3 separate regions of the Homo sapiens genome follow, and all the other regions are linked to region 1. Evidence: fine-mapped expression QTL. A gene starts in region 1. Each other region holds a variant in brackets. All regions are shown on one strand. Distances are from middle to middle. Region 1 holds the start of SPATA6 (spermatogenesis associated 6). Region 2 overlaps AGBL4 (AGBL carboxypeptidase 4). Region 3 has its middle 31 kb from the start of SLC5A9.

Evidence for each region.
Region 2: its variant is fine-mapped to the expression of SPATA6 in whole blood (TOPMed, PIP 0.96).
Region 3: its variant is fine-mapped to the expression of SPATA6 in whole blood (INTERVAL, PIP 0.99).

What each region holds. Positions count from the first base shown.
Region 1 is chr1:48,467,344-48,475,526 of GRCh38, forward strand. SPATA6 (spermatogenesis associated 6) reads right to left here and starts at 4,861. Exons shown (of 13, transcript NM_019073.4): 1 at 4,615-4,861. The coding sequence starts at 4,665. It overlaps LOC124904175 (a long non-coding RNA gene), which reads left to right and starts at 3,027. Exons shown (of 2, transcript XR_007066074.1): 1 at 3,027-3,609. RefSeq lists a silencer at 4,543-4,932 and an enhancer at 5,143-5,192.
Region 2 is chr1:48,612,665-48,620,847 of GRCh38, forward strand. All of the region lies in intron 9 of AGBL4 (AGBL carboxypeptidase 4), which reads right to left. Among named protein-coding and RNA genes, the nearest start is that of SPATA6, 140 kb to the left of the region's middle. The variant T/C (reference allele first, on the strand shown) is at 4,735.
Region 3 is chr1:48,187,906-48,196,088 of GRCh38, forward strand. No RefSeq gene overlaps it. Among named protein-coding and RNA genes, the nearest start is that of SLC5A9, 31 kb to the right of the region's middle. The variant A/T (reference allele first, on the strand shown) is at 3,062.

The sequences.
Region 1 (8,183 bases):
AACAGGCAATCAAAGATAACACCTAGTTTCCAGTTTATAGTAATTGGGAAAAAACTGAATGTCACCACAAAAAGAAGAAAAAATCAGGCAATAATACAACATGAACTATTCTGTAACCGAGCCAAGTATGTTCAAAAGGTAATGTCCACAAAAAGATTTTTACAAGAATGAATATTCATAATAGTATTATCCAATAATAACCATAACCTGGCAACAACCCAAACAACCATCAACAAGAGAATGGATAGCATCAGAGTAAAAAGCTTCTACACAGCAAAGGAAACCACTAACAGTAAACATACAGAATGGAGAAAATCTGATAAGCGGTTAATATCCAAAATATGTAAGGACCCAAACTCAATAGCAAGAAAACAAAAAACCTAATTTTAAAAATGGGCAAGAGGTCTGACTAGATATCTCAAATGGCCAACAGGTGTATGAAAAGGTGCTTACCATCTCTAATCATCAGGGAAATGCAAATCAAAAATATAATAAGATATGCCCTCGCACATGTTAGAACGACTACTATAATAAATTCAAAAAATTGTAAGTGTTGGAAAGAATGTGGAGAAAGGGGAACCCTTGTACACCGTTGGTAGAAATGTAAATTAGAAGAGCCATTACAAAAAGCATATTTCCTCAAATAATTTAAAAAAAGAAAAATTTCCTCAAATAATTAAAAAATAGAACTACCATATAATCCAGCAATCTCACTTCTGGGTATGTATCCAAAGGAAATTAGTATATGGAAGAGATCTGCACTCTCATATTCATTGCTGCATTATTCACCATACTCATGATATGGAAGCAACCTAAGTGTCCATCAACGAATGAATGGATAAAGAAAATGTGGTAGGTGTGTGTGTGAGGGGGTGTGTGTGTACACTATTCCGATTTCTATCACTATGGATTACTTTGCCAGTACTTAAACTTCACATTGGAGCCACATAGTATGTGATATTTAGTATCTGACTTCTTTTGCTCAGCATGTTCTTGAGATTCATCCATGTTGTTGGTTCTATCAGTAGTACCTTTGAATTGTGGAGTAGTATTCTATTGTATGTGTATACTACAATATATTTATCCATTCTTTTTTGTCAAAACTTACATATATTTACACTGTACAAAGTGATGTTTTGCTACAGGTATGTACACTGTGAAATGATTAATTCAAGCTAATTAACATTTCCATCATCTCCTATACTTATTTCTCTCTGGAAAGCAGTTCTGTCTGGAATGGACCTGAAAGGGGAACAAGGGAATTGCGAGGGGTGATGGAAGTGTTCCAAATCTTGATCTGGGTGATGGTGACATGAGTGTATGAATTGACCAAAACCAACTGAGGAAAAAAAAGGAACATTGTGGGAATAAAAAAAAAATAGAACTGCTCTATATTAAAATGAACTACAAAGACCTATCAATCAAATGATTAAAGGTAATATATAAACCTTGACTGGATCCCGGTTTGAAAAAGTTAACTATGGAACTCATGTTTGGGACAACCAGAAAAACTTGAATATGAACTAAATATTAAGAATTTCTCACCAATTATCTTAGGTGTAATAATGGTGTTGGGGTTATACAGAACAATCTCCTTATTTTTTAATTTTATTTACGTATGTATTTATTTAAGAGACAGGGTCTCACTGTGTTGCCCAGGCTGGAGTGCAGGGCTACTCACAGGTGTGCTCACAGCATACTACAGCTTCAAACTCCTGGGCTCAGGTAATCCTCCTGCCTCAGTCCCCTGAGTAGCTGGAACTACAGGTGCCTGTCATCATACCCAGCTAATATCCTTATTTTTAGAAGACACATGCTGAAGTACTTACAGGTGGAGTATCATTATGTCAATTTATTTTCAATTTTTAGCAAAAAAATAAAAAATTTATACATAAACATACACATACATATAGACAAATCAAATTAATGTACATGGTCATGGGTTACAGTTATTCATTGAACTATTCTTCTAAGTACTCTGTATGTTTGAAAAATTTCATTTAAAAAGTTGGGGAGAAAGATGCCAGTTTTAATAGATACAGAGTGATCTCCAGGACATACTGAACGAAGAAAAGCAAAGGTACAGAATAGTTTATACGCTACCTATTTCATAAAAACAAATATCTATTTATATATATATATATATATATATATATGTTGTGTGGTATGTGAGAGAGAGTTTGTGTATCTGTTTATATCAAAACCAGTGAAAATGGTTAAAGCAGATGAGTATAGGTGGGAAATAGTTTTGAGCCTGGAAGCAACACTTCTCTGAGTATATCATGTTATAGTCTTGAACTTGAACCATGTAAATGTAAAAAGGAAATAGACAAGAAAGGAACTAAAATCAAAATGAAGATGTTAAAAATATCTAGGGTCATATAACCTTTCTATTCAATCAAAGCCAAATTAATCAATCAATCAAACATGTTTAACTTTTACGTCTGCTAGTGGGGTTTTTTTTGTGGGGGGGGCGGTCAGGGGCGTTGTTTGTTTGCTCCTTCTGAGCATCAGAGCCATTTTAAAAGGCTTTTGTTGTTCAAAAATTCGGGAACATTTTGCACATCTGCTTCTAAACAGTTGTGCAATCCTAGATAAATAATAGCCATGCTGAGCATCGATTTTCTTGGCTGTAAAAAGGGATTGAATCCAATGATTTCCATCTAAGATGTCTCGGAACTATAAAATTCTGTGACTTAAATGTTTGTTGGGGAAAAATATTATTTCCACCATCATAGTTTTCTTTAGCTCTGATAAGTAACAAAGCTCCGTTATACAGTGAATTACACAGTCATTCACTTTTCTGCAATACAACTAATACTCAGGAGAAATGTAGCTATTCCTCCGACTCCTTCAAGCAGTAATCAGTTACAACAGAGTACTTCCTCTTAGAAAGTTTGTATTGGCAACGTTAGGGAAGCTGCAGCCAGCCAGTCAGGCAGCTGCGCTCACCAGACTGCTAAACACCATTAGTTGGCAGGAGGAGGAAGAAGCCAGTAACAAAATCTATTAAGGCTGAACTCTGAAGGAGTTTCACTAACTTGTGTCCTGGGCCAAGGGATCGAGAAAGTTTCGTGCATTCTTCTTGCTAAACTAATTTTACTTTACAAAAAGTTGTCAAAAATGGCAGCTTTGGGAGGAAAACAAGCAAAGCTAGGGCTATGGAGTTTCCGAGAAAAATCTCTGCAGGCTTGAAGATAAAGGGAGAGTCCAAGAAAATTTCTACTTCACCACCACTGCCTCACACTCTGCCCCACGCACACTTGCCTTCTTTAAGACCTAACAAAAGACCTAAAACAGTCCTGTGATTTTCCTAGGGGTTTAAGTTCTGTGCTGCAGCAACCTCATTCTAACGTGACGAAGGCCAGCCAGGAAAGGCGGGAAGCTGCAAGCACGGGTTAAGTGGAGCCTGGCCAGTAGGGTGTACAGGAAGGAAATGCAGAGGGCTCCTGGCTGCAGCACCCAGGAGAGTAATGGTAATATTTCAGCACTCTCAACCCCCAAGTTTTCCTAGGAGATCAAACAGAAGGCAATATACATAAGAAGACTTACTGAGTAAGAAGGAGCGAAGAGACCGAATGGTGAATTTTGGTTCCAAACTCCGTACAGGTCTGTGCCTGCAGGACTAAAACGGGGTGTGGAAAGGGTCTTGTGGAGATTTCCTCCAGAACAGACAAGCGGGAGTATTCCTCTAAACAGGGGAATGAGAGGGTTCTCTAAAGAATGCAGGGGAAGAAGTTCAAAACCCTTGGAAGTCTTCTGAGATCAACAAGGGGAATAGAGTTTTCTCCTAGCATGGAGAGGTCCAGCCCCTTCACTGGATGAGTGGGGTTCTCTGCCCCAGCTGGACTTCCACAGGAGGATGGAGGAAAGCATCCTCTTGAGCAAGTCTGGAGAGTGAAGGGGTGGGGTTGCAAGGTTGGAGAAGGAGGTGTTTCCCTCATAAAAATGACTGGGCCTTTCTTGCAATGGCTGGCACAAAGTCGGAAGGGTCTGGGGACGGGAGGGGCCTGAAGTGATTTCTGAGGAGTTGGGTTTTTCCTGTAAGGCCCTGGGAGGGAAGGCAAGGTACTTTGCGCAATGACACATTTCAGTTGTTGGATGTGAAGATTCTCCTTCGAAGACAGAATAAAGAAAGGCCCCTTCATTAATGCGGGTTTGAAACTGGTCTGAAATGGTGTGCCTGCAGGGATTCGGGAGGAAATGCGACGCCCACCCCCAGACTTGGGAAAGGCGGGGGCAATAATTCTCTAAGAGAACTGGAGCCCGAAAGAGGAATGAAAAGCCCCCGCGCCGCGCACATACACTCTCTCTCACTGGAAAGTTAGGAGCGAGGAAAGAACTCTGAAGTGATTTGGGAACGATCTGAAAGCGCGCAAGTTGGAAGTCGGGTTGAAGCCAGCATAGCGGAGCAGGGGTCAGGCCTCTGCGTGGCCGGAGTGGGAGAGCGCTTCTGAGAACAAGATGGGGCAGGACCGAAGGGGCGTGAGGTCGACGCTCCCTAGGGATGATTCGGAGGGTGAAGGAGGTTTGGGGGTGGTTCCGGGCTCTCGGAGGTGACTGAGGGAGTCCCTGAGCCAATGCCCGGGGGTGGGAGGCGCTACCGGTACTCACTGAGCTGATCTCCAGCGCCAGGGCGCACTGCAGCGCCTTCACCTTCGGCATCCGTGCGGGGAGGGGCGGCGGGGAGTGACCCCGGCCACGGGCCCGAGTGAGGCGGGGAGACCTGGGGCTGGGCGGGGACGGGGAGGAGACGAGGTGGCGGCGGCGGTGGCAGCAGTGGCCCCCAGGCCGGGGCCCGCGGTCCAGCCTGGGTTCCGCCGGAGAAGCAGCTGAGCGCGGGGCGCAGACTCGTTGTCATGGCAGCCAGGAGGGGCGGGGCCGGAAGAGAGGCCGCGCGGGGCACTCCAGGGCTACCCGCGCTGGGACGAGCGCTGGAGGCGGAGCTTGACGAACGCCGAGCGAGGCGGAGTCGGGCAGGGGGCGGGGCTTCCGAAGGGGCGGGGTGAGGCAAGGCAGCTCTTCTGTGACGTCAAACTGCGCCCAAAGCCGGACGAAAGGGAGCTGCTGTTTGTATAATGGGACGGTGCTCTGTTCAGGGAGTTGGAGTTCCTGTAAGGCCGTCGGAGGGAACCCCTGAGTTACAACGTGGTGATGGCACCTTGGGCTAGTGGCGACCCACTGTGGCCTCAGTTTTCCCAATTGTAAAAGAATAATAATTATTGTTAGTCCTCCTATTTAAATTTCACGGCACGGTTTACAAAGCCAGCATAAGGATACTGGGAATTAGGGAAGAGACTTGCCCAAATCAAAGTCGGAACCAGGACTGGAACCCAGGAGCTCTCAAGTTAAACCCCAGTTGCCTCCCTGAGGAGAGGGGCTTGCATCAGATGGTCCATACTCCTAGTCTCCTATTCTGTGATTCCCTTTGTTAGCGCGTTCCCTTTTCCCTTCAAATTTTCCTGTCTAATTCACCCATGTATGCGTCTTAATGCATATTGCTTAAGTGGAACTGTCAATGAGGTGCCAACAATAAGTCCAGCTGTGAAGGGCCTGACAATAGACCATCAAAGATAAAAAGAACCTAAGAGATTGCCCAATCCAATCATGTTAAAAATCATTTGTATTGCAAAATACATTATACATGCAGAAGTGTATAAAACACGTTTATCTTAATAATAATGTGAACAGTACCTGTACAACTAGCACCCGGTTAAGAAATAAAACATTACCAGCACCTGAAAAATGCCCCCAACGATTACATTGCCTTTCTCGCCCTGGAGTAACCACTACCCTGACTTTTGTACAATAATTCTCTTCCTTTTGCCATTCATGTATGCATTTCTAAACAAGATATTGTTTAATGTTTTCCGGTATTGATAGTATATAAATGGTATTAATACTGTATGTATTCTTCTGTGATTTGCTTCTCCCACTTAATATTATGCCACCGGTGATGCTGTGTAGCTGAAGTTTTTTCCATTGCTGGACAGTATTCCAATATAGATTGATTTATCCTTCCTACTATCAATGATCACTTACACTGTTTTCATTTTTAGCTATTATTAACAATGTTGTGAACATTGTAGTACAAGTCTGTGTCTATTAATGCACATGTACTAGCGTAGGAGTGGGTTAGCTGGGTATTAGGGTTTTGCACATGTGGGTCTTTAAAAAGTAAGACCACACCATTTTCCAAAGTAGTGTACCTATTTATGTTTCTGGTGCTTATGTATAAGAGTTCTTATTTTTCCACATCATCAGCAACATTTGTGTTTGGATTTTTAACTTTTGTATATTTGGATGTGTGTATTTTAGGTATTTCATTGTGGTTTTATCTTGAATCTCTGGGTACTGTTGAGGTTGAGTACCTTTGGTTTTGTTAGCCTTTCCATTATCTCTTATTGAACTGCCAAGTAGTTATCTTGCCCCCTTTTCTGTTGGTCTCTCTCTCAGTTCTTTATATACTCTGGATAATAATTATATGTCTACTCTATATGTTGCAAATATCCTTTCCACTTTGTGTTTGTATTTTAATTTTACATATAGTCTGTGATGAACAGAAGATAAATTGTTGTCATGGAGTATGAGTATTCTCAGTTTGACCATATAATTCCAAGTTGCTATCCAGAATGCCATACCAGTCTATGCTCCCAATATTCGAAGGTTACTATGGCCCCACATTCTTCCCAGGCTTGGCATTATCAAGGGTTCTTGTTTTCCCCCAACATAACAGATGTAAAGTGTTATCTCACTATTGAATTTTTCAGATTACTGATGAGTCTGAGCATGTCTGTATATGCTTATAAGATTTTCTATCTTTACTAAAAATCATCTGCTCATAATGCTTTACCCCATATTCTATCAGGATTTTTGTCTTTTTTTTAGGAATTTTGTGTATTCTGGTTAGTTAATAAATTAATTCTAAGACACTACAAAAATCTTCTCTCTTTATGGTATTTTTATGAACTTTGCCCAGGATTTTGTTTTGTTTTGGGGTTTTTTGGGTGTTTTTTGTTTTGTTTTGTTTTTGACAGGGTTTTACCCGTCACCCAGGCTCTGGAGTGCACTAGCACAATCTCGGCCCACAGCAACCTCTGCTTACCCAGTGATATGGTTTGGCTGTGTCCCCACCCAAATCTCATCTTGAATTGTACTCCCATAATTCCCATGTGTTGTGGGAGGGACCTGGTGGGAAATAATTTGAGTCTTGGGGGTGGTTTCCCCCATACTGTTCTCATGGTAGTGAATAAGTCTCACAAGATCTGATGGTTTTATCAGGGGTTTCCGCTTTTGTATCTTCTTGTTTTCTCTTTCTGCCACATGTAAGAAGTGCCTTTTGCCTCCTGGCATGATTCCGAGGCCTCCCCTCCCTGTGGAACTGCAAGTCCAATTAAACCTTTTTTCCTTTCCAGTCTTGGGTGTGTCTTTATCAGCAACATGAAAATGAGCTAATACAGTAAATTGGTATCAGTAGAGTGGGTGTTGCTGAAAAGATATCCGAAAATGTGGAAGCGACTTTGGAACTGGGTAACAGGGAGAGGTTGGAACAATTTGGAGGGCTCAGAAGACAGGAAAATGTGGGAAACTTTGGAACTTCCTAGGGACTTGTTGAATGGCTTTGGCCAAAAGCCTGATAGCCACATGGACAATAAGGTCCAGGCTGAAGTGGTCTTAGGTGGAGATGAGGAACTTATTGGCAACTGAAGCAAAAGTGACTCTTGTTATGTTTTAGCAAAGAGACTGGGGGCATTTGGCCCCTGCCCTAGACATTTGTGGAACTTTGAACTTGAGAGAGGTGATTTAGGGTATCTGGCAGAAAAAAATTCTAAGCAACAAATCATTCAAGATGTGACTTGGGTGCTGTTAAAGGCATTCAGTATTATAAGGGAAGAATAGCATAAAAGTTTGGAAAATTTGCAGCCTGATAATGCGATAGAAATGGAAAACCCATTTTCTGAGGAGAAATTCAAGTTGGCTGCAGAAATTTGCACAAGTAATGGGGAGCCAAATGTTAATCCCCCAGACCATGGAAAAAATGTCTCCAGGCCATGTCAGAGGGCTTCACGGCAGCCTCTCCCATCACAGGCCCCGAGGCCTAGGAGAAAATGGTGTCATGCGCTAGGCCCAGGGTCCCCATGCTGTGTGCAGCCTAGGGACTTGGTGCCCTGCGTCCCAGCTGC
Region 2 (8,183 bases), 150 kb after region 1:
GATGGCTAAATAAAAGTGCTTTTAAAAAACAGAAATACACTATAAATATTTGTATTAAAAGAGGTGTTGAATTCAGTTTTTCTTAAGTTTAAAAGAACTTAAATGAATTACATCTTTAAAAAATGTTTTCTCACAAGAGACTTTTTTTTCCCCTAAAAGATATTTCTAGGGTTAAAAACAAAATGAGGGCCAGGCACGATGGCTCACGCCTGTAATCCCAGCACTTTGGGAGGCCAAGGCGGGCGGATCACCTGAGGTCAGGAGTTCAAGACCAGCCTGACCAACGTGGCAAAACCCCATCTCTACTAAAAATACAAAAATTAAGCAGGCAAGGTGGTGGGCACCTGTAGTCCCAGCTACTCGGGAGGCTGAGGCAGGAGAATTTCTTGAACTAAGGAGGCGGAGGTTGCAGTGAACCGAGATTGCACCATTGGACTCCAGCCTGGGCGAGAGAGCAATACTCCGCCTCAAAAAAAAAAGAGAGATTATGAGACACTTTAAGAGGTATGTGTGTTTTTTAAAACTATAGTTTGAATTTTTGAAGAAAAATGAAGAAATGAGAGAGGTTAAATAACTTACCTAAGATCACACAGCTAGTCTGTGGTGCAACTGGAATTTGAACTTAGATATATCTAATTTTTTCAGAATATTAATTTGCTTCCCTAAAGAGGCAAAGTTTCTCATTTTAAACAATCAGAAACTGGGGTCCAACGAGGGCAAATGATTTCCCTAAACTCATATTCTGATTCAGCAATAAAGTAATTTTGGTTGATTAGATCATTGTTCCTAACTATTCTTCCCTCCCTGTAATAAGAAATCTCCTATTGTCATTTTTGTTTGCCTAAGAATCTAAGAAGAGTATATATACCCACCATCTCACTGACTTTGGCCTTGGCTTGAGGACACGCTTTGGCTAACGGAATGTGAGCAGTCATGATATTTGCCATCTCTGTGTGGAAGCTTTAAATGAGATTGTGTTCCTGTTCTCTGCCATAAAACAGCAGGTCCCAGATAGGGGTGACACCTTTAGCCTGGGCCCTAGATGAGGGATACATACAGCTGAGCACAGCCAGCAGAGCTGTGGCTGGCTCACTTACAGCCCTTATAGAGCATGGACATGAAATAAATGTTTGCTGTGGTAACCTACCAAGATATTGGGGTTGTATTCACAGCGAAAGCTAACCACAATAATACAGCACAGTTTCGTGCAGAAATGTATTCTTCATTTTTCCCATTCTCAAGGTTGCCTCCAGTTGTGCAATAATTATGAGTTAAGGCCATGAGATAAATGGCTGTGTTAGTGGGCATTTTAATTTTAACTACTAAATACATAAGAAATAATTAGAGAAAGAGTTGGAAAGCATAAGGCACAAGAGGAAAAACCAGGTGTCAAAGGTTTAGATTTCCAAGGTCACCCTCTGATGAAAAGAAAACTGGTAGAAACCCACTTTGTTGACAGAGAAACAAGGGTGAGTCAAAGAATTGAGGTTTATTTCTTATTCTTCTGCTGCACACAGAACTGTTGGCATCAACTAAAATACACATTCACCCAGAAGCACCTTGTTCAGAAATGGAAGATGCTAAGGAAAAAAAAGGTAATAAATGCCAAATGAATCTCTGCCACCAAATCACCAATGACCTTGGGGAAGTCATTTTCCTTCTAGCATAAGTTTTCTCATTTGTAAAATGAAGAGGCTGAGCAAGAATCTCTCACTTTCCTTCTGGCTCCAAGGGTCTGTGATTTGATTGCATCTAACTCATTAATCCTAACTAACTTGAATAGGACCCAGTAGTATTGAGGCTGATCATAGGAATACATCAAAGTGTAGCCCAAAGAAGGTGATCTTGAGAATCAAATGAGGATAATCTAGAGAAGGTGCCTGCACACTGCAAAGGGCTCTCTTGTCGCTTTTCCATTGAAAAGATGTGGGCAAATATGCCCCTTATCCCCCAGTTTGCATTACCCTTGCAGCCTTCCCCCTCACTTTTAACATCCAGCAGTCTTTTAGGTTGTTCTATCTACCTCACCTTCTTAACCCAACAAAACTACATTCTCCTCTCAGCAAAAGAGAAAAATAACTCTAAAACAAAGAAATATGTGATTATAATACAAGAGACATACAAACAAAGTATGGGGGGAGGGTAAAGAAGGAGAGAAGAAATCAAGACTTCAGAGTTCAATAGATCTAGGTTGGATTCCCAATGTCTCTTATTGTTCATATATAAAATGGGGATGATATGGTTATTCTTAGAAAATAAATGATATACAAAATGTATAAGCCTATACTATGTGCTCATTTACAGCTGTGACAATGACAGAAGGCTTTCTGGAAGCAATGGCATGAACATCTGAAGGCCATATGGAATTCTGAGGGCTAGAGAATAAGAGGGGAGGGGTAAAAGTCCAATCAGAGGGGAGTTTGTGGGGGTGCAAGTGCAGGGATGGGTAGGAATGCAACAGGAGTGGCAATATGAATGTGGGCAGGCCAGAAGTCCTTCTGGGAGAGGAACAGGCATATTAGGATAAAAGTAAAGGTTTTAAGCAAAGGAATGTAGAGAGATGAGTCTGAATCTTTGAATACCAAACTGGGAAGTCTTACCCCTGTATGACTGGGAAGCCCTGAAAGCCTTTAGGCAATTATGCTTTAAAAAGTTGTGGCTGTGCTGGTGCATCTTGGGAAGGAAGCTGCATCTTACCAAGATGTAGGGAGGGAAAGGAGATAGCCTCCTCCCCATAGGAGAGTAGTTGTTGCACCTGCCTGAGATAGAAATCTGAGCTACAGGGGAAACACCAGATTGAAACTTGAATTAAAACAGATGTGATCTCAGTATAAAAAGTTCTTCAAAACCTTAAAAGTTCAGTTTTCTTCCCTTTAATCTCTTAAGAGAATCACTGCTTTTAAACCCAAGAAAGTAAAATTTCCAGGTAAGAAAATGAACCCAGAACTCTATTTGCTGACCAGATCTGAGTAAGATTGCTTTTCCTATTTGCATTTATTTCAACAATCTTAAATCTTACATCCTCGGTAGTTCTACCCTGGACCCAAAAGTTTGCTTCTGCCATCGGTTACACCGTTGCTACTCAAAATGGGGTCTCAGTTTGTTTGTGCTGCTATGATAAAATACCTGAGGCTGGGTGATTTATAAATAATATAAATTTATTTCTCACAGTTCTTGAGGTGGGAAGTCCAAGATCAAGGCACCAGCAGTTCAGTGTCTGGTGAGGACCTGGCATTTGCTTCCATGATGGGGCCTTGAAAGGTGTGTTCTCACATGGTGGAAGTAATGAAAGGGTGAAAGGGCAAAATGTTCTTGCTAGTTCCCTTTTATAAAGCACTGACCCCATCCATGAGGGAGGGGCCCTCATGATCTGATCACCTCCTAAAGGGCCCACCTCTCAATACAATTGCACTGGGGATTCAGTTTCAGCATATGGATTTTGGAGGGGCACATACGTTCAAATCATAGCAGGGTACTTGAACTGGCAATATCAGCATGCCCTGGCAGCTTGTCAGAAATGCAGATTCTCAGAACCTCACTCCAGACCTACTGATCAGAACTTGAATTTTAATAAGATATCCAAGTGTTTCCTGTGCATTAAAATTTGAGACGCACCAGGTTACACCATGCCCTCAGATTCCAGGAGGCCTCTACAACCAGAGACGTTCAGAGCTCGTATAACCTCTCCATTGAACAAATGAGAAACTGAGATCCAGAGTGAGAAAAGAACAGGGTTTTCTAAGGTTATACAACCAGTAAGCATAATTGGTACAGAATAGTTCATAATAGTAAAGTACAATTCTCTATAGCTAGCTGGAGATGAAGCACAGCGCACTGCAAGCCACCCTGATTCTGGAGTCAACTCTATGTATAAGGTTTACAACCCAATTGGGCCAAATTACTTCATCCCCCGAGCTTCATATTCCTCTTTTGAAAAAATGGGAAAAATAAGACTACTTTGATAAAGGTGTGAGCATTAAGTGAGATAATGTGTGTGAAATCCTTACCATGGTCTGGGTGCTCTGTCCCTAGTAATTACTGTCTAATTACCAGAGATGGGAGTAGAACCCAAAGCTTCAGAATCCTTAGTGTCTTTTCTCCTTCACAAAAGTCATAACCCAAGTCCTACTACAGGGCATAGTTTCCAACTTTAAAGGAGGCCTTTGCCTCTGCAGGATAAACAGCTCCTCTACATGCTCCCTGGGTCCTTCGTTCTTTCCTCTTGTGGCATTTAGACACACCTCCAACGGCTGGTTTCTTTTCTGCCTTTCCCACTAGAGTGAGTGTTGCTTCAGAGCAGGGACCATTTCTTTTATCTCTCTACCCCCAAAGCACATCATAGTAGATGTGTTGGCAGATGGAAGGAGTGAGGGATGGGGAGAGAGAAGAAAGAAAGGAAGAAAGGAGGGAGAAAAGGAGGGAGGGGGGAGCTGAGAAGATGCTGAGTGTTAGAAAGCAACCATTGCACAGCATGATGGATTCATTCAAAGAAATAGCTTGACAGAAGAGAATTCATCTTTTTATGACTGTGACAACACTAATATATTTATTTCCCTTCTGAAATTAACTTTCTAATATTAAAAAAGGTCAAAATGAACCGCAGCAAAATGAGACATTTTGTCATTTTTAACAAATTATACCAAAGCAGACTGTCAGATTAAAGGGGTCACTGTTTTGAGGTCTAAACACTGGTGCTGATTGCATAATCAGAGCTAATGCTTGTCAGTCTGCCCT[T/C]TTCCTGCCCACAAACCTCTAACAGTTGCCTTTGGCCAAAATGATGAAATTCAAATCTCTCAGTCTGGTATTCTGAGGTCCTTTAGAATCTGACCACTTTTCTTTTTTTAATCCATTCCTTCCCCAAAGGGACTCTCTAAACTATGCAGACCCGCCTCCTTCCTGCTATTCTCTTCCTACGTGCTTCTGTTCATGTGATGGCTCTTGTTTTAACTGCATCCCTCCTACCATATGCCCATGGGGATTCTCTCTACCTTTTTTCTGTCCTACGGGCTGGCCGTTGTTTCTCAGAATTTGACTTACTGTGGCCTTCCGTCTGCCACTTCTGCCTTGGGGCGGCCCTTGGGCCGGCCATGACCATGGCTTGGACCCTTGAGTACCCTCTGCTTCTCTTACACCTTGCTCTGCTCTACCCTTCATTCCCTCAGAGACATCTGGGAAAGGTATGGTGGTCTGAGAGGGGACCCGAGTCCAGGTGCTTTTTTAAAAAGGTAAAAGAGGGAAAAGCAAGAGATGAGACTCTACCTTGCCACTCCTGTTCCTCTCTGCCTCTGACTTATCAGTGGGTGTGCTCACCTCTGGGCCACCTAGAGTCAGAAGAACCGAGATTCAATACTGACTCTGTCTCTTGGGAAAGTTACTTAATAACTTTAGGTCTTAGTTTCCCCATCTGTAAAACAAAACAATAGGCCAGCCATGGTAGCTCACACCTGTAATCCTAGCACTTTGGAAGGCTGAGATGGGAAGATCGCTTGAGCTTAGGAGTTTGAGACCAGCCCAGGCAAGATAGTGGGACCTTGTCTCTTAAAACAAAACGAAACAAAACAATAATCCCTGTCTCACAACGTTGCAATAAAGGGTCAAGTGAATGCTTGTATGTGAATGTGCTCTGAAAACTATACATCTCTGTGACAAATTAGTGAAAATAGTTATGACAAGACCCACGTGCTAGTGATTCATCCCCGGGGCCTGGAGTGCATGTGCTCCAAGTTTGGTAGAAATCCTGGGAACCTGAGTTTGATTAACAATTCTATAGTACTACAGTCCCACTGTGTGACCTGGAGCAAGCCATTGCCCTGCCCTGGGCTGAAGTGTTCTCTCTATATGAAGGGTTAGTTTGGAGCACCTCTTTAGTTCATCCAGCTCTGAAGTTTTCTGGCTCCACATAGGGCAAAATGATCTCTGAGATCCTAGAAGGCCAGAATTACATTATTAATCCAAGGTCAAAAGTAGCCAAGTTGGGGATGTGTACATCCTCAGGCTATGGCAACAACCTGTGGAGGAACAGGAGACATCCTAAGGTCAAAACCTCTTGCCTGTGTTAGTATTAGCCAGCCCCTCTTAAGATCCCAGATCCTAATTTACCTAGCATGCTCAATCTTTGGAGTTCATTCTGGACTTTTCGAACCAACGTTTCTTACAGTGGTCGGGGGAGGAGTGGGGTGCCCAAGGTAATGGAATAAATCTATTTATAATATCATGTTAACCAAAAGATAATGGGGGTAATTCTGAATTTTTGTGCTTAAAAGATGTCATTATACCAAGAAAAAAAAAAACGGGAAATCAATAGAATTTCTCCTTTCTAGGTTGGCTGCTTCCATGCATTTTAAAGCTAAAACAAGAGACTCTGAGAAACAAGGGGCCTCTGGCTGCTGCTGGGCCCCTGGTGAGCATGCCCACCCTGCTCTGCACTAGGGTCGTGGGCCTTGGGATCAGGCAGATCTGGCTTCCACTTCAAGTCCTTTGACTACCAGTTGTGTGACCTTGCAGGTTTCAACTGCTTTTCATTTGTTCTGCCATTCATCTGGCATTTTACTGATGTATTAGGCGCTATGCTCTGTGCAAGAGAGTGCAGAGGTGACGGAAACAAGAGTTTCATCCCTCAGGGAGTCCACATTTGAGGAGAGAAAACAAGCACGTAAACAGATTAGTGTGGTGTGGAGTCATAAATGTGTGCAGCAGGAGAGATTACGGTTAGGGGAGGGACATTCACGCCGAGCCTTAGTTTTCTCACCTTAGAAATGGGGATAATAATGCTCATTTCTAGAGGTTGTTATATGGACTAGATGAAACAGTGCCTGGCACTTAATGGATGCTTAACAAATATCAGCATTTTCCCCCTTCCGCTCTGCAGGGTCCTGAAGCCCTGCTTTCATTCACCCCACCCATGCCAGGAGGCCGAGTCACATAGCAAAGATGACTAATAAAGATTCGCCTTAGCAGTTGGAGGCTTTTTCAAGGTTATAGCCTGGAGCTAAACTCTAAGAGGAAAGAAGTTTTCCTCTTGTAACTGGGAGCCTGAGTAAGTCAATCCTCCCGACTGCTGAGTCTGCATAGGTGGTGCCAGGAGTTTAAAGCAAAGCTTTGCCCTTGAAGTGCCCTGTAGGATCAGCCGGTGGGGGCTGCTGTGTACAGTGGCCTTAGCTGCCAATCAGCGTACAAACTCCGCCTCCAGCCTCTGTGAGAGAAGCCCCGCCCCAAGCCTCTCCTGGTGTCTGGAATCGCCCTTGGGGGATCTAGAGTATCGCATTTACTGATAATTCATTCTAGAAGCATCCTGGCTGTCGTCAGCCCTTAGGGATTATGGTGAATTGCCCCCAAAACACACATGCACACATACCCAAACTCTCGGAATGAAGGAAATCGGCTTGCCCTCCGAAGGTTAAACCGTAAAATCCACTCGGAATGAATTGAAACCGACAAATGCAGGAAACCCTATGAAAGAAAAGCTTCTGGAACTGGGCTGATTGTAACCCAATTAAAGATATTAGCACAGCTGTAAAAAGACTTTGCAAAGATGGGGATGGGGAGTGGCCAGAGCATTTGAGCTAATGGCTCAAACTTGCTTCTAATCTGTCCTTATTTATTTACGTATTTAAATATTTTTTAAGAGACAGGGTCTCACTCTGTCTCCCAGGCTGAAGTTCAGTGGCATGATCATAGTTCACTGTAGCCTCAAACAATCCCCACTGAGCTCAAGCAATCCTCCTGCCTAAGCCTCCCTAGTATCTAGGACTACAGGTGCGCACCATCATGCTCGGCTTTTAAAATTTTTTTTGTAGAGATGGAGGCTCTCTCTGTCTTGAACTCCTGGCCTCAAGCAATCCTCCTGCTTGGGTCTCCCAAAGTGCTGGGATTATAGGCAAGAGCCACCATGCCTGGCCCAGTCTGTCTTTTAAAACCTACTTGCATTGCTATTTCAATAACCAGAGCTACAGCTGTTTTTAAAATGCTTAAGTTTAAAGATGGTGATAATTGGTGATAATGAAATATTATTCAGAAGATTCCTTTGTGAAATCAACATTGAAATAGTAGCTATTGTATATTACTAGGTTTGAGCTGATAATAAATGCTAACATTTATTGAGTGCTTACAATTTACCAGCCTTACAAAAGACCACACTATATAAGTGCTTAGTGGGTTTTTGTGTGTGTATGTGGTGTTTTTTT
Region 3 (8,183 bases), 280 kb before region 1:
CTAGACCAGTTAGTGAGGAGGCATTGGTGAAAGGATTGGCCACAAATAGAGAAGGCTCCTTGGGTTTTAAACCAAGTAGAAATGTCAAAACAGAATAGAAGTTTGACTTGTTCCAGCATAGGTAAGGGGCATGGCTAACTCCTTTTGTCCCCAGTCCTTACATATAATTTAATGGCTTTAAAACAGGCAAATTGTACAGTTAAGAGTCACAGTAGCAGTTTATGAAGGATTTATTAGGCCTAATAGCCTGTAAAATTGTGCATTTTTATAAATTTCTTTTCACAATTCTTTTCATGACTTACATAGACCATCTACAACATGCTTAAGCTTTCTGACATATCCTAAACATCCCTCTTTTTAAATGACTAGTCATTTTACTTAAGGACAAGAATTTACCATACAATATCCTTTTTTAGACAAAATATTTTCTTTATAACCTTCCTTACCAAGAAAAATACCTCTTTATAACTTCTGAATTAGACAAAAGTCATTTTCCCTTTGTTGGGAAGTTATGTTTGTACTATGTGTTGCTGTGTGAGTCTTGTGACAGGGGAGTAGATAAAGAGGTTATCTATGTATGTATAAGTTATCCTCCCTCAAGAGATTGCTTGGTTAGATTTCCCTAGGGCTTGTCCAAATAAGTATGGACTATTCTAAACCACTAAGGTAAGACTGTCCAGGTTGAACTTATTGGTTAAATATTTTTGTAGCTTACCCCAGGAGAAATAGGGCTATTAGAAAGAAAGGTGAATTTAGAGGTTGAGTAAATATTAAGCAGGCACTCATTTTGGAAAGTATATTTTTGCCCCAAAGAGGTATTGAGTATTTAGACATTACCAGGGACTCGTGGAAGAATTGTAATTGGTCCCTTAAGTTATATAAAGGGGTGTGGATCTTTTCTTTTGGAGAGAGGAGGTGTCATTTGCCCCCATTACCCAACAGGATTTGTGGGAGAGTTGTTCAGAGAAGGAGATTAGTGAAGTAGGCAGCTCTTGGACCTAAGAGGGATTTATAATTTTACTTTTCAACTCCAGAGTTGCCCTTGGCTTCATCTTGTTGATGATGATGTCTCATTTGTAAGCCAATCAGAGTAGTGAGCCTCTTCAGCTCAAGACCACCATGATGGGTTGGGATTCTGTCCCAGGGGCCCTTTGGAACCCAGGGAAGTCCCATTACCAGTGGCCAAGCTTGTGACAGAGGAAGCAAGCTGTGCAGGGCTTTTTCCCATTTATCCTATTGGGACAGTTTGCCTTCCAGTGCCCTGGCTTCCCACACTGATGGCAGGAACCTGGGAGTATATTCTGACGACAACCTGGGGGGAGGCTGCAGGGCTTGTAGAGCAGCCAATAGTTGAGCCTGCCTCTTGTTCTTGCATTTTCCCTTTTCCTTACCCCTGTCCTCCTTATTCCACTGTCAATTAGAAAAGACTGAGGAGGCTAATTTGAGGTTTTCCTGCATGAGGCACTGGGTTCTAAGCTGACTTTTGTAATTGCCTCCCCTTTGTTAAGGATGGATCTGAGGGGCATGTCCTGTGGTATAGAGATGCAATTACCCATCTGTGAAAAGGGAACAGAAAATAAAAAAGGAAAGAATGTGTCTCCTCTTATTTCCCTATTATCCTTTCCTGAACAGGTCATCGCCCATTTGTCCATAGGGTTCTGGAATGAACCAGTCTCACCAGGTACCCTTAACCTTGGTCTTGGTCTCATCTCATCACAATTACCCTCTTGAGAACAGAGGAGATACTAGGGTAAACACAGGGATCCTATTCATTTCCAGGGTTCTGAAATTAACCAGTCTTATGGGTACCCCTAACCTTGCCTTCCTCTCTGTTCTATTGGTAATCTGCCCTGGGGTCAGCCTTCATCTCTCTGTCCTATGGGCACGTCTGTCTCTTGCATCTGCAGCCTTGGGCTGGCCTATATCCTTGTCTCCATGACCTTATAGTGACTCTAGCTTGGGGCATTCTGGCAACAAAATGATTATCTCTTTTCTTATAATCACATTTCCCCATGCTTTTTAAATATATGAGAAGCCTATTTTTTAGCTAATTTCTGCAAGAGGGCTGGACTTACCTCCCTTCAAATATGACCTTAAAAGTCTTGAGGTATACTAAGAAGGGCATGAAGATGATTAGAGGAATGGAGGAAATTTTGTATTTTGGGTTCCTCATCCTCCCAGGGTAATGTGCAGAAAAAATACTTGAGCAGACAGGACCATCCTATTACTATAGGAGGAAGCTGGAGGAAGAAGGGGGATACTCAAGGAAAGGCTTCATGTGCTTGCAAAAACGACAGCCCTTGGATTTGAGATGGCAACATTTATTTGCCCTTTTGACATAAATGAGAAATTCTGCAAGATGTGGGGCTTGGGATAAGGGCTCACAAATGCAAAGGAAGAATTTTCCCTCCTACCAAATGGGTGCTAACTCATAAAAAGCAAGTAGATGGGGTCCTTAAAGGGCCATAGAGGGAAGCCCTCTGCAGGTGAACAAATTGCTTCAAGAGCCACTGAAAAACTTGGCTATGGAGCATAACAGGGACAAAAAACATAGGGTAAGTCATAAGAAGCTGGCAGAGCCATGGTTCTAATTACTGTCTGTCCCAGCAATAAGCCAAAAGACATCCACAGGGGAGCCTGTTTCCTTGCAGCTGCACAAATGCAGCAAGAGCCACAGGTGTATGAATAATAGGGAGTGTGTGTTTAAGGCAGAGAAGGAAGTCTTATGGCATGTGAAGTGAAAGCAGAGAAGAGACATACTTGCCTTTGAGACAGACTGTCCAGTGGGTGTGCAAGGCCATTTCAGAATACACACCGAGAAAACAGGAGAGTAGGCAGTGTGGGTTTTGCGGAAAGACCTCATTTTCATTTCAAACGCAGAGGAAGCCCCAGACATGGCACCATCCTAGGCTTTAGCCCTACCACTCTCTCGAGCCTCCTGTCCAGAAGGGCTATTAGTGGCTCAGATCTGTTTGATGTGGACTTCAAGGTCTTTTCCACCTCCACAAGCCACTCATCAGTGTGAGATGAGAGATCAGCTGTGGGGAGCAGAGCCACTGTT[A/T]GCCCCAAGGGAAGAATCAGGGGAGGAATCATTCTGGGCGTTGCTTAGTAAGCAGGAGAGCAAAAGGGGAGAAGGAAACCACATAAGGAGGTTGAATACCTCCAGCCCAAGAAGGAAAGGCATAGAGGTATCTTACCACTAGGGAACGTATGTGAGTCATGGCACTGAAGTATGTTAGCAGTGGCAAAGACATACAAGTCAGCAGCAACTCGATTCTTGCCTCCTTGAAGGAAATAATTCACCCAAGGATTATAGGCAGAATGAAAGACCAGAGCAGGAGTGAAAGTTTATGAAAAATTATTGGAGCAGCAGTGAAAGCAAGTAAAGTACATTTGGAAGAGGGCCAAGCAGGTGATTGGAGATATCCAAGTGTGCTGTTTGACCTTTGACTTGAGGCTTTATCTGTTGGCATGCTTCCAGGTTTTTCATCTCTTCTACCCCAATTCTTCCCTTGGGGTAGACTGTCTGTATGTGCAGTGACCTGCTAGCACTTGGAAGTGGCCACATGTGCAGTGTGTTTACTGAAGTTGTGCACCTGCTCATCTGAGGTATTTTTCATTTTTCCCCCGCCAGTCGAGTGGTGACCAATTACTACTTTAGAGAGAAAATTTAACATCCCCCATGACTATCATCTGATGGTCACTTGACAATTCTGGCAGACTTAAATGTAAGGCTCAAACTATAAAAATTCTGGAAGACAACATAGGTGATACCATCCTCGAAATAGGAACGGGCAGAGATTCACCTCTCCCTCTCCCTCTCCCTCTCCCTCTCCCTGTCCCTCTCCCTCTCCCCACGGTCTCCCTCTCTTTCCACGGTCTCCCTCTCATGCGGAGCCGAAGCTGGACAGTACTGCTGCCATCTCGGCTCACTGCAACCTCCCTGCCTGATTCTCCTGCCTCAGCCTGCCGAGTGCCTGCCATTGCAGGCACACGCCGCCACGCCTGACTGGTTTTGGTGGAGACGGGGTTTCGCTGTGTTGGCCGGGCTGGTCTCCAGCCCCTAACCGCGAGTGATCCGCCAGCCTCGGCCTCTCGAGGTGCCGCGATTGCAGACGGAGTCTCATTCACTCAGTGCTCAATGGTGCCCAGGCTGGAGTGCAGTGGCGTGATCTCGGCTCGCTACAACCTACACCTCCCAGCCGCCTGCCTTGGCCTCCCAAAGTGCCGAGATTGCAGCCTCTGCCCGGCCACCACCCCGTCTGGGAAGTGAGGAGTGTCTCTGCCTGGCCGCCCATCGTCTGGGATGTGAGGAGCCCCTCTGCCTGGCTGCCTAGTCTGGAAAGTGAGGAGCGTCTCCGCCCGGCCGCCATCCCATCTAGGAAGTGAGGAGCGCCTCTTCCCGGCCGCCATCACATCTAGGAGGTGAGGAGCGTCTCTGCCCGGCCGCCCATCGTCTGAGATGTGGGGAGCGCCTCTGCCCCGCCGCCCCATCTGGGATGTGAGGAGCGCCTCTGCCCGGCCGCGACCCCGTCTGGGAGGTGAGGAGCGTCTCTGCCCGGCCGCCCCGTCTGAGAAGTGAGGAGACCCTCTGCCTGGCAACCACCCCGTCTGAGAAGTGAGGAGCCCCTCTGCCCGGGGGCCACCCCATCTGGGAAGTGAGGAGCGTCTCCGCCCGGCAGCCACCCCATCTGGGAACTGAGGAGCGTCTCCGCCCGGCAGCCACCCCGTCTGGGAGGGAGGTGGGGGGGGTCAGCCCCCCGCCCGGCCAGCCGCCCCGTCCGGGAGGGAGGTGTGGGGGGTCAGCCCCCCCGCCCAGCCAGCCGCCCCGTCCGGGAGGTGAGGGGTGCCTCTGCCCGGCCGCCCCTACTGGGAAGTGAGGAGCCCCTCTGCCCAGCCAGCCGCCCCGTCGGGGAGGGAGGTGGGGGGGTCAGCCCCCCGCCCGGCCAGCCGCCCCGTCCGGGAGGGAGGTGGGGGGGTCAGCCCCCCGCCCGGCCAGCCACCCTGTCTGGGAGGTGAGGGGCGCCTCTGCCCGGCCGCCCCTACTGGGAAGTGAGGAGCCCCTCTGCCCGGCCAGCCGCCCTGTCCTGGAGGGAGGTGGGGGGGTCAGCCCCCTGCCCGGCCAGCCACCCCGTCCGGGAGGTGAGGGGCGCCTCTGCCCGGCAGCCCCTACTGGGAAGTGAGGAGCCCCTCTGCCCGGCCACCACCCCGTCTGGGAGGTGTGCCCAACAGCTCATTGAGAACGGGCCAGGATGACAATGGCGGCTTTGTGGAATAGAAAGGCGGGAAAGGTGGGGAAAAGATTGAGAAATCGGATGGTTGCCGTGTCTGTGTAGAAAGAAGTAGACATGGGAGACTTTTCATTTTGTTCTGCACTAAGAAAAATTCTTCTGCCTTGGAAAAAAAAAAAAAAAAAAAAGGAACAGGCAAAGATTTTATGACAAAGACACCAAAAGCAATCACAACAAAAGCAGACATTAACAAATGGGATCTAATTAAACTTAAGAGTTTCTGCACAGCAAAAGAAACTATCAATAGAATAAATAGCCTACAGAAGAGGAGAAAATATCTGCAAACTATGCATCCAACAAAGGTCTAATATCCTGCATCTATAAGGAGCTTAAACAAATTTACAAGAAAAAAAATAAGCAACCCCATTAAAAAGTAAGCAAAAGACATAAACAGACATTTTTCAAAAGATGACAAACACACATAGCCAACAAGCTTATGAAAAAAGAAGCTCAATATCACTGATCATTAGAGAAGTGCAAAGCAAAACCACAGTGAGATACCATCTTACACCAGTCAGAATGGCTATAAAGGTCAAAAAATAATAGGTGCTAGAGAGGTAGTGGGGAAAAGGGAATACTTATACATTGTTGGTGGGAATGCAAATTAGTTCAACCAATGTGGAAAGCAGTATGGTGATTTCTCAAAGAGCTGAAACAGAACTACCATCTGACCCAGCAGTCTCATTACTAGATATATACATGGAGGAATATGAATCATTCTACCATAAAGATACATGCATGCAAATGTTCATTGCAGCACTGTTCACAACAGCAAAGACGTGGAATCAACCTAAATGCCCATCAATGACAGATTGGATGAAGAAAATGTGGTACGTATATACCATGGAATGCTATGCAGTCATAAAAAAGAACAAGATCATGTGCTTTGTGGGAACATGAGCTGTTGTGGGAGCTGGGGCTATTATCCTTAGCAAACTAACACAGAAACAGAAAAAATAATATCGAATGTGCTCACTTATAAGTGGAAGTTAAATGATGAAAACTCATGAACACAAAGAAGGGAACAACAGACACTGGGGTCTGTTCGAGGGTGAAGGGTGGGGAGGAGGAAGAGGAGCAGAAAAGATAACTATATGTGTACTAGGTTTAATACCTGGGTGATGAAATAATCTGTACAACAAACCCCTGTTACACGAGTTTACCTACATAACAAACCGGCACCTAAAATAGAAGTTAAAAAAAAAAAAACTTGAAGTCAAAGAAAAAAAAACTGCCTTTGTAGATGATATGATTCTTTCTACAGAAAATCCCAAGGAATCTCAAAACGAACAAACAAAACCCTCGTGAAATTGATAAGTAGTTATAGAAAGGTTTAGGATACCAAAGTCAATTGCTTTCAGTTGTATCTTTGCAATTTCCTGTGAATGTATAATTATTTCAAAACAAAAAAAAAAGTCTTAAATGGAAAAATGACCTACTCTCATAAACCACAAATATATGTAATCTTGCTTGGGCTTGATAAATAAATGGTGATAACTTACAAAATGACAAGAAGAATTACTGTTCTCTTTTGGATTTATTGATGGGAGGTAAGCCGAGGAATCCACCAAAAACCTCTGGAAATGAAATAATTTATTTTAATATTAACTTATACTGAATCATGCACACAACTGTAGCCTCACCTTTCAAATAATATTAGTATTAACATTTTGGTATATTTCCATCCAGTATTGTGTGTGTGCTAAAAATTGAAGAATTCCAAAACTTTACCGTTCATGAGAATTACCTGCAGGGTTTTTTTAAAGACAAACCACTGGCAACACTCCAGAGTGTCTGACTCAGTAGCTCTAGGTGGAGTGCAAGAACTTGCTAACAAGTTCCCACGTAGTGCTGATAATATTGATACAGGGAACACATTTTTGGAATGCTTGACAAACACTATAATTCTATTCTCTTTTTTTACACTCCAGAATACATTATGAACCTGTTTTATTGTTGGTCTTCAAAAACATAATTTTAATAGATTTACAGGTTTCCAGTGTATTTCTGTCCCATCATTTATTTTTAAATTTGTATATTTTGTTGGAGCTCCAAAGGGGCAAAAATTATAGCTCCCCTTTTCTTTCAGTCTAAGTTTTGAATTAATTGAGAAAATAAAACTATATAGTAAAGCAGGAGATCAAAATATTACTTTTATTAAAGAACAAAACTCTGATATTGGGAAGTGTGTGCAGTATCTATGAGCAAGTCAGCTTCTGAATACTAAATCCAGGAATTAAGCAAACCTTCCCATTCCAGCACTGGAATTCTTGCACCACCAGGGATTCTCCCTGATGGCATATGCCCAAAGGCAGTTGGGGGCACACGGTCTGTGTGGGTTGCTTGACTCCCAAGAGAAGAATCCGTGGCTATCCCCATCAATAATAGGAAAACAGCAACCTTTCAGTACAGCTCTATTCCGCTTTCACGAGGCTATTCCACAGCACCATGGTTTAACACGGTTTAAAGTCACATGAGATACGACAGGTGAAAGAGCTAAGGACAAGCCACGCCAAAATATGCCGCTTTGACATATTAATTATTTCCAGCTGATGACACTTGAGAAACAGCAGATGCAGGAAGAGTCATCTAACGGCTCCTTTTCTACTGAAAACAAGCCACAGAATTTTCCATGAGAAAGATTCCCTCCCTGTGCCAGGAAGAGAAGAATACCCTTATCACCAGAGACTGGGAATCAATGCCGAAATGGATCTGTACAAACAAACATACTAAAATAACCCTTATCTTCCACTAGTTTTATTCCCTGCCCCACCACCACCATATATCTCCTAGTGACTTCTCCACAACTTACAGCTCCTAGTTCAAACCCTTTTGTCTTGTCATTTCTTCACAAATGTATTGTTGGGGCTCAGAAACAGATACCCCAAATTC